Regions from separate parts of the Homo sapiens genome. Here region 1 is linked to region 2. Evidence: fine-mapped expression QTL. Tissue or cell type: aorta. Region 2 holds a variant in brackets; the other region holds the start of a gene. All regions are shown on one strand. Distances are between the middles of the regions.

Region 1 (4,537 bases), 520 kb before region 2:
GGGCAGTTTGGGTACATTTTAGATGTGGTGGGGAGAGGAACACTGGGCATGGAGAGGCGAGATCCACACCTGGCTCTTCACTATTTTGCTGTGTAATCTCAGAAAGCCATTTGACCACTCTGAACATTCCATTTTCTCATCTGGAAAAGGACAATAATCATATTGCCCAACTTAACCTTCCAGATTGCGAGGATGAAATGAAGAAGGGGGAGGCTATATCTGTGAGCATATATTTAACAGACTGGACAACTTTAGGGTCTTTTCATGGTTCCGTATTTCCCAAGAACAGGGTTAAGGAGCAGGCGGGCAGTCTCCTGAGAAATCAGATGAGTCATCCTGAAGCTCAATGCCCAAGGGAGTTTTCCTCCTAAAAAATAAGTGACCCCAGAACGAAGTGTTCATTCAGTAATATGACTATGCAACAGGCGCTGAGAAAACAAGATGAAAAGGACCTATAAGGGCTGCTCAGGAAGCTCAGTCTAGTGAGGATGAACGCTGTGCAAACAGAGAAGTGGGGGATGGAGCTAGGCCAGTGAGACCAGAGCTGTGGGAACATGAAGTGTGAACTTCAGGGCTGTCCGAGAATTTCATGTTGAGCAGCAACCAAAGAGGGTTATTCCAGGAAAAGAAGAACAGGCAAAGACTAGCATTTCAGGGGAACCATGAACACAAATCAGTTTCCCAAACTTCAGTCTCCTGAAGTCTGCTTTTACACTTTTTTTTTTTGGGGGGGGGGGGGCATGTCTTTGCAGCATGTACACCATTTTAAGTTGACTGATTTTTGAAAATGTAAACGAACAATTTAAAAACTTTATATGACTACTGTAAGTGAAAAACGTTATTTGTCATGAACAGAAAATGACCTTAGAACATGGACCACATCAACTCATTACTCATGAAATAAATAACTGTCAGGCTCAGTTTGTTTCTGAGGCTAACGGGGTGACCATTGACAGAGGTAAGGGAGGGAGATAATGACAGATAGGAATGGATGCTACGTAGAAAATATGAAGTGTCTTGGAGGGTTACTTTAGATGGGTTTCGGGGGGTGAGGGTTAGGGGCTGGAAGATATCATTTGAGCCGAGGACTACAGTGTTGGAGCTAAACACCTTAACATCAAAACCAAAAACAAAGTCATTAAATTTCCACCAGACTCAGCTGCCTGCCGAAGGCTGTGCCACAAGCAGAGAAATGAATGAGCGGGTGTTGGAGGCGCGCACATCCAGTGCAGACTTGTTGTGGGACAAAAAGAGACGAGAGAGGAGGAAGTCGCCTTGTCACGTGTGATCGTAGGCCGCTCAGTGCTCTGTAGCCCCTAAAACCCAGCCGGGTGGCCCAAAGGAAAGCACCCCACGCTTCGGGAAACGCCGCAGCTTTGAGCGGGATGCAGGTTGGGAGCACCCCGATGGACACATCAGTAAACTGAGAGCAAGAAAAGTTAATTCGCTGCCCCAAGTTAGGTAGTGAGAGGTAGAGCTGGGACACGAAGCGCACCCAGAACTCTCCTTGCACGCCCAGCTCGGCGGCCCCACATGCCGCGGGTCTAGGGTCGCGCTAGCAGAGGCCTGGCACAACCGCCAGACTCCTGACCCCGAGATCCGCGCTCCGGACCTCCCGAGGGCCCCTCCCTGGGCGTGGCTCAAAACGCGGCGCAGCGGAATCCGTGAAGTGGGATAAAAAGCACGGCCTCCGACTGCGAGCATGCGCGTTAGCTCGGCCCTGCCGGGCCGCGCTCGGCGCCGGGGGAGGGTCACCCGAAGCGGACGTCCGCTACGCAGGCGTCTGCGCCCCGTGGGGAGGAGGGCGAAGACTCCATCCGCCATGTTGGATGCCGCAGATTCGCCATAACCTCGCCGGCTCTTTTCTTAAAAAAATAAAAATAAAAAGCGAAGCGTCAGCAGGGCGCCCCGCCCCCTCGGTCGGCACGGGAGGGGGCCCGGAAGAGCCCGAGGCTTTTTTTTCCTCCGCGGTGGGGCGTTGCCATGGAGACGCGGGCGGCAGGTGAGCCGGGCTGGGGGTTGGGGTGAGACGGGGTGGGGGTGGGGCGCGGCGCGGCGCGCGGAAAGCCGTTTCGAGCGTCGAGTCGGGAAGCAGTGCGCCGGCCGCCGGCCGCCGGCCGCCGGCCGCGGAGGGATCCGGGTCTGGGGAGGAGAGCGAACGTAGTTGCGTTCTGCGGCTCACGTTCAGTCGCTGGGGTATCCCGCCGCAAAAAAAAAAAAAAAGCAAGGCGGGAGCGAGTGGGAGAGCATGCGCCCGGCCGTTTCCACGGCAATGGGTGGCGTTGGGGCGCGGGCCAGCGACGGAACGCAGTGGGCGCGAGGTTCGAATCCCGGCGATGCCAGCTCTTTGACTGGACCTTGGCGGGGCTTCCTTCTTGCCTGGCCTCGGATTCCTCCTTGGCGAAATGAGTACCTCCTGCAGGCTTCCCGGCCGCCGGCTGGACCTAATAGAGTGACAGATCTTCCACTTGACACCCGGTGCAAGTCATTTAACCTTGAGCTTGGGGTCCTTCACCTGTAATTACCACAAGCTTCCACATTTGGGCACTGACTTAACACGTTTTGCTGCTCAGCTCTCTTGAGAACTCTAATTTGTAGGTCATTTATTATGAGGAACAGAAGTTCAGAGAGGTCAACTTTACACAGTTTAAAAACGACAGAGCTGGGGCTTTAAAAATTAACTTCCTCCAACTTGGGCTAAAATCCAAACTCCTGCGTGCTCGCCTGACTTGTACCTCCATCTTCTTAGAATAGGGCTTGGCTCATGTAAGTGTTCACTATATACTTAGTGAATGAAAGAACGAACGCGCTAACTGATCACGCCTGCCCATCAGTCTGGCTTTTTTTGCTGGAGTCCAAGTGACCTTTTGGAGATGCCCCGCACAGCTGCCTCTCACCAGCTTTATCTTCCGAGCCTACCAGTTCATCTACTGAAACATCTGTAGTGTGTGTCCCCATGCTGAAGGAAGTAGCGTGTCCTACCTCTAACCCCCAGGGACACCTTTCCTGACTTTAGTTCAAATAACAGCTTTGCAAGGATCCCCTCTGCACGCCAGGCAGGGGTAAAGAGCAGTCCCAGTCGTAGTCCTGCCTCCACCTGCTGCGGTGCTAGATGTGGGAGAATGTGTCCTGGAGTGACAGAGTGGGCCCAGAGCCGAATATTGGGTCAGGAGACCCGAACTATATCAGGCGTGCTTTTTTTTAATTTAATTTTTTTAATTTTTTGGGACAGAGTCCCGCACTATCACTCAGGCCGGGGTGCAATGGTGCAATCTCGGGTCACTGCAACCTCTGCCTCCCGCCCTCAGGTAAACCTCCCGCCTCAGCCTGCCAAGTAGCTGTGACCACAGGTGCGCTGATTAGCTGTGGTGCCCAGCTGATTCAGGTGTGCTGTCTTAGGTTAGCCTAAAATGAGCACCGGAGAGACTTGCTCTCCAAATACAGGTTGAGCATCCCTAATCCAAAAATCCGAAATCGGAAATGCTCCAAAGTCTGAAACTTTGAGCACTGACATGAGGCCACAGTGGAAAATTTTCTATCTGACCTCGTGAAGGTTCTCAGCAGAAATGCAGTTCCATAGCCGGGCGCAGTAGCTCACGCCTGTAATCCCAGCACTCTGGGAGTCTGAGGCGGGAGGGTCCCTTGAGTCCAGGAGTTCAAGACCAGCCTGGGCAGTGTAGTGAAACCCCATCTCTATTTTTCTCAAAAAACAAAACAAAACAACAGTTGCACAACTGTAAAGACGATGCTGTTAACACTCAGAAAGAAATGCAGGCTGAACAGCAGACTTAAAGCCAGCCGTTGTTTATTGTTCTGTTGTTTAGCAGCTGATGCATGTGTTCTGGTGATGCTGCTGTGCCGCTTAGGTACCTTGAACACCTTGTTTTTCACTGTATTAATGGTGTGTCATATTTTTTACTGGTAAGGACTTATGTGTAAATAAATGTAAGAAAGTGATTGTCTTATTGGTAGCATAGAAATTCAGAGTCGGGAATGATGGCGATGCCAGACAACCACAGATTGCCCATATGTGTGGCTGAGATAGTGACACCTTTGCTTTCTGATGGTTCATTGTACACTTTGTTTCATGATCAAAATTAAAAATATTGTAAAATTACCTTCAGACTGTGTGTATAAGGTGCACATCAAACATAAATAAATTTCATGTTTAGACTTGGGTCCCATCCTCAGGTTATCTCACTATGTATATGCAAATATTCCAAAATCCAAAAACATCTGGAATTCTAAAACTTCTGGTCCCAAGCATTTTGGATATGGGATCCTGAAACTGTAGTTTATTTGGGAATAATAGGGGATTGCAATTTAGATACATGCGCTATGCTGGATCATAGGTACGTCCAAAGAAGTTGGGGCAAATGGAAACTTTTAAAGACCCAAAAGGGAAGTCCACCTAAGCGGTTTTGAAACAAAGACCATTGGTTTCAGAGGTTTATTGCAGGAGCTGGCATTAGTCCATTGGAGACAGGTGCACCAGGCAAGTGTCCTGTGCAAGTAACAGGCTCTAAGGAATTCCTGG
Region 2 (5,932 bases):
TGGTAATGAGAAAGTAATAAAGACCTGGTTTGATCTTCAAGGAGAACTACAAACCACTGCTCAAGGAAATAAAAGAGGATACAAACAAATGGAAGAACATTCCATGCTCATGGGTAGGAAGAATCAATATCATGAAAATGGCCATACTGCCCAAGGTAATTTACAGATTCAATGCCATCCCCATTAAGCTACCAATGCCTTTCTTCACAGAATTGGAAAAAACTACCTTAAAGTTCATATGGCCCCAAAAAAGAGCCCGCATCGCCAAGTCAATCCTGAGCTAAAAGAACAAAGCTGGAGGCATCATGCTACCTGACTTCAAACTATACTACAAGGCTACAGTAACCAAAACAGCATGGTACTGGTACCAAAACAGAGATATAGATCAATGGAACAGAACAGAGCCCTCAGAAATAATGCTGCATATCTACAACTATCTGGTCTTTGACAAACCTGAGAAAAACAAGCAATGGGGAAAGGATTCCCGATTTAATAAATGGTGCTGGGAAAACTGGCTAGCCATATGTAGAAAGCTGAAACTGGATCCCTTCCTTACACCTTATACAAAAATCAATTCAAGATGGATTAAAGACTTAAACGTTTGACCTAAAACCATAAAAACCCTAGAAGAAAACCTAGGCATTACCATTCAGGACATAGGCATGGGCAAGGACTTCATGTCTAAAACACCAAAAGCAATGGCAACAAAAGCCAAAATTGACAAATGGGATCTAATTAAACTAAAGAGCTTCTGCACAGCAAAAGAAACTACCATCAGAGTGAACAGGCAACCTACAAAATGGGAGAAAATTTTCGCAACCTACTCATCTGACAAAGGGCTAATATCCAGAATCTACAATGAATTCAAACAAATTTACAAGAAAAAAACAAACAACCCCATCAAAAAGTGGGCAAAGGACATGAACAGACACTTCTCAAAAGAAGACATTTATGCAGCCAAAAAACACATGAAAAAATGCTCACCATCGCTGGCCATCAAAGAAACGCAAATCAAAACCACAATGAGATACCATCTCACACCAGTTAGAATGGCAATCATTAAAAAGTCAGGAAACAACAGGTGCTGGAGAGGATGTGGAGAAATAGGAACACTTTTACACTGTTGGTGGGACTGTAAACTAGTTCAACCACTATGGAAGTCAGTGTGGTGATTCCTCAGGGATCTAGAACTAGAAATACCATTTGACCCAGCCATCCCATTACTGGGTATATACCCAAAGGACTATAAATCATGCTGCTATAAAGACACATGCACACGTATGTTTATTGCGGCATTATTCACAATAGCAAAGACTTGGAACCAACCCAAATGTCCAACAATGATAGACTGGATTAAGAAAATGTGGCACATATACACCATGGAATACTATGCAGCCATAAAAATGATGAGTTCATGTCCTTTGTAGGGACATGGATGAAATTGGAAATCATCATTCTCAGTAAACTATCGCAAGAACAAAAAACCAAACACCGCATATTCTCACTCCTAGGTGGGAATTGAACAATGAGAACACATGGACACAGGAAGGGAAACATCACACTCTGGGGACTGTTGTGGGTTGGGGGGAGGGGGGAGGGATAGCACTGGGAGATATACCTAATGCTAGATGACGAGTTAGTGGGTGCAGCACACCAGCATGGCACATGTATACATATGTAACTAACCTGCACATTGTGCACATGTACCCTAAAACTTAAAGTATAATAATAATAATAATAAACAAAAAAAAGAAAGTGAAAAAGTAATGCATTCAGTGTTTGTCTGGAAGGCAGGGAAGAGGGGTATGAAATTTTCAGCAAAGCATTGTAAAGGAGCTTTATGGAGTGATGAAAATATTCTATTTTCTGAATGCTATGATGTTTATATGGGTGGATCCATTCATAAAAGCTCATCAAATGGTTAAAAAAAAAAAAAAGACCTGGTTTGAAAATTCAAAATTGTTATCAGCAATATGACTGGGGAAAAAATGGTGACCTATAGATCATAAAGTCTGGATGAAATGTATCCCAAGGAATTAGCAAACCTACATGCTTCCTGAGCAGAAAAGAGTGAATAAGAGAGAAAAAAAATGAGAAAGGTTTTGAGCAAGAAATGTAGCTCCTGCAAAGGTTATATGGTTTGATTATTTTCTAGCTCTAGTGGTTGACCTATACTTACAGCCAAATAAGTCTGTTTAGAGATGAGTTTTGCAGTGGCTCATCAAATTATATCTTGTAGTCCAAAGTCATGTGTGGGTTTTGCCTCCTACTGACACCTTTTCCCCATCAGACTGAAGGACAAATTTTGTTCGTATTTCAGCATAATTTATTCTTCATTAGTCTAAGCTATGACTTGTTCATGATTAGATTCAATTTCAGTGTTTACAGGTTCATTTTCATAATATTTCCTGAGGGTTTATTATTTCCATTTGTAAAAATGCATTAAGTCCTCTAAGTCAGAGTAAGCTGATGCAATTTTCCAGGGAGACTTGCTCTGCCTCACACTAGGCCAGCAGCTTTGCAACAGCAGGTAGATGATGCTTTTATAGGACTTGTGAGGAGCCCTCCACCTTCTTAAGGGACTCCATTGCTTGTCTGAGTCTTGTATGGTATTGGATGTAGGACAGGGTTGGGAAGCGAAAGTGGGCTTTGGAAAAACGGTGCATCCTAGGTGTGGTTTTTGTGCATCGTGGATACCTGTGTTTTGGTCTTCTCAATGACCTCTTTGCCAGGGCACTGCCCCTCCTTAAGACCATCCATGTGGTTACCATCGGAACCGTCAGGTAAGTACCACATGAAACTCTCTCTCATGATGGCTGTGGGTGAGACCATATCTTATTCATGTTTCTGTCCTTGAATATGTATTAGTTCCAAAGATCTAGGTTTGGAAAAATGGTATAACTAGGATAAATTAGTCATTCATTTGTTCATTTAACATAAATTTTCTATGAGCATATTATGTGTTGGCTTCCCCGGTATGCTTTAAGGGTACAGCAGTTTTATTGTCCAGGTCTTGAGAGTCAGCCCACTGTTGCCTCCATGTGCATCTTCAAAATCAACAAGGAGCAACAGGATTAATTTCTGTCATTCATATGTCTATATTAATGTTTTAGAAGTGTCCTTGAAAGCATCTTTGGAGAAGCCGTGTGGATTTCCTCTGATAATGGACATGAAGGTATTCATTTTATTGATGGCTGAACAGGCCCAGAAAATTGCCTATAAACTTGCATCAGAACCAACACAAAGAATCTTTAAGATTCTTTCTTAAGTTCTTGACTGTACTATTATCTTTTAT[T/G]AATTAGTATTCTTTTGGTGTAAATTTTTTTAAAAAACGGATTGAAATTGACTTGACTACAAAAGGGAATGTACTGCTGTATACAACTCAAGTACCTAGGAATCCATCCGACTTCAAATATGCTTGCTCCAATGCTTCAGCAATACCACCAGGTTGTGGTTTATCTTCTCTCTGTATCTTCGCTCTGCTTCCTCTATGCTGACTCCATTTTCCAATAGGTCTCAGAGTCACCAATTGGCTCAATATGGCATCTAGGCTGCATCTTTTCTAAGCTTAAATCAAGCATAAAAATGGCCACCTGAAATACACTCAGTTGAAGTTATTCAGTCCACTCTGATCTCACTGACTGAAGTCAAGGGTCCACTGTCGAGCCAATTACTGTGACCTGCTGACTGGTGTAGGCATGTCCCTGCTCCTTCTGTGGGACTGGAGCAGACCTGACTCAAACAACGTGGAATGAGAATTGGGGAGCAGGCATCTCCAAATAACAAATGGGCCCATTGCCTCACAATGAGAATGGTTGTCGGGAAAGGAAAGAATATATGTTTACTATAGATACACTGACTTTTACCCAGGTTCAATATTTTAAAAAATTACCTTATAAAGGCAAAAATGATAAAGAACTAGCAGTTATATTCTGTTAATGTGATGTCAGAACCCACTTGGCTTATTGAGCTTTTTAACTGAGATCCATTTTGGATAGAGTGACTCATATAATGTGAGGTGGAGAACAACCTAAAACATGTCATATAAGAACAGTTGGAAGAAGTGGGAATGTTCAATCTGAGGGAGATTTTTAATACTTTGTTCCAGAGTTGGAGAGAGATAGCATTACATCATTTATTTGAAAGATCTTCAAGCCAAAGTAAAGACAGACTTGCTCTATGGGATTCAGGAGGCCGAGATTTCTAGTAATAAATAGCTGCCCAGTGAGGGAACACGAAGACTTAGTTAGAAATGTGTTTCCTATCACTGTAGCTGTCCAAGTATAGTTTTATCAGACAATCTGTCAAGGATGGTATAGACACATGCCAATCACTGGGTGAGTGACTATGCGAGGTAAACTTTTAATGCCCCTTTGATGCCTGAGATCCAATAGTTAACTGTGAGTTTAACATGAAGGACTCACATTGGTAAGAGGCAATTCTTTATACATTACCTAGCAGAAAGAAAATAAGCAGGTTGCTTAAGAAGGAACATGGGAGATGGAGCAGGTTGAGAAGAAAGCTTGCAGTTAGAATTTTGGCCTTGACATAACAAAGGGAAATAAATGAGACAAAATGGTAAACATAAGAAAGAAAAACTGAGTCGACTCTGTATTTTTGCAGTGACCTTTCAACATGCTGTTAACTGGCTTTCTTGTCCCACCCTGGATAATCATGAGAGTATAAAAACCTAGAGATTTATTTCAATGGCCCTTCTGCTTTTGTCTTGGAGCAATGCTAAAAAATGGCTATGTTTAAAATTGTCTTAAGAGGGCATTCTTCCATTTTCTTCCTTCATGCTCTTCAGGGCATTACAACTAAGGTTGAGGACTACCTTGCTGATATTTTAGTTCATTTTCCCTTAGGATTTCTCTCCCATATGAAGTAAACCTAAAACCTGGGCTTTTATTCTGATCTAGAGCCGAGGGATCACTGTTCTTTAAAGGTAGATCATCTTCCTTTGAATTTTGACAGCTGCTCCTCTCCACAATGCACCATCTTTTAAATTGCTAACTTCAACCATGCCCAAACTATCAGGGTGCACCACCATTTCACCAGCTGTCCTGGACCCTTCTGCCAACTTCTGGATTGTGTTTCCACATGGCCCTCTTGGATGTATGGTTGCTGGGCTATGCATTCCTCATCTGTAAAGCAGGTATAACACTACATATCCCCCAAGGAGAGGGAGGGGGTAACACTTTAAAATTATTTGTAAATTGTGAAATGGGTCACAGTTTTAAAAGAGAACTTCTAGTATTAGGAAGCCATTATCAAATGGAATGATTAAGGTCTGGCTTATTTCACCTAAAACCAAGCAGTTTCTGGGTTAATGTGTCACGGCCTATCCTGTGGATGAGCCCCTCCCAGCACCAGACTGTGTCCGTGACTGATGTCAGGAACTAGAAACAGCTGGGCATTGTGCACTTCACAGGTGGCTCCCTAGTAAGACCATTGTGCTTTGGAGAATGTTTCAGTTGCCATTCGCCATATAAATCTCTGCTTTCAAAAGTCTAGGACTTAACTTACCTCCTGAGCCTGGGATGCTTCCTTTCCACAAGTTTCTTCTAAAATCTTATTCCCATGCCTTTCAGAAACCTCTTTAGATCCTCCCTTCCCCCACCTACTTGTACAGAAACCTTCAGGTCTTCTGACATCAAAGGCAAGTTTCTTGGTCATTTTATAATACTCAGCATTATTTGTCTCTAAGTTAAGATACTTGCCTCTGATTTAAGATCTTGGAAGCCTTCCTTGCTAGATATTTAACATGTCAAGGGCAAGGACAGCTTTTCTTCGCCTCTGTATTTTCAGCACCTGACATGATTTATGACTCTGAAAACATATGGAGAAAGACAGAAAGAAACAGAGAGAAAGAGAAAAGAAAGAGAGGGAGAGAAAGAAAAGAAAAGAAAGGAAAAAAGAAGTTAGTTTTAAG

What was found. PIP is the estimated chance that this variant, and not a neighbour inherited with it, causes the effect.
Region 1: ZFAT starts here. The variant in region 2 is fine-mapped to the expression of ZFAT in aorta (GTEx, PIP 0.98).

What each region holds. Positions count from the first base shown.
Region 1 is chr8:134,710,310-134,714,846 of GRCh38, reverse strand. It overlaps ZFAT (zinc finger and AT-hook domain containing), which reads left to right and starts at 1,816. Exons shown (of 16, transcript NM_020863.4): 1 at 1,816-2,002. The coding sequence starts at 1,984. RefSeq lists an enhancer at 1,805-1,984.
Region 2 is chr8:134,185,396-134,191,327 of GRCh38, reverse strand. No RefSeq gene overlaps it. Among named protein-coding and RNA genes, the nearest start is that of LINC03024, 500 kb to the right of the region's middle. The variant T/G (reference allele first, on the strand shown) is at 3,296.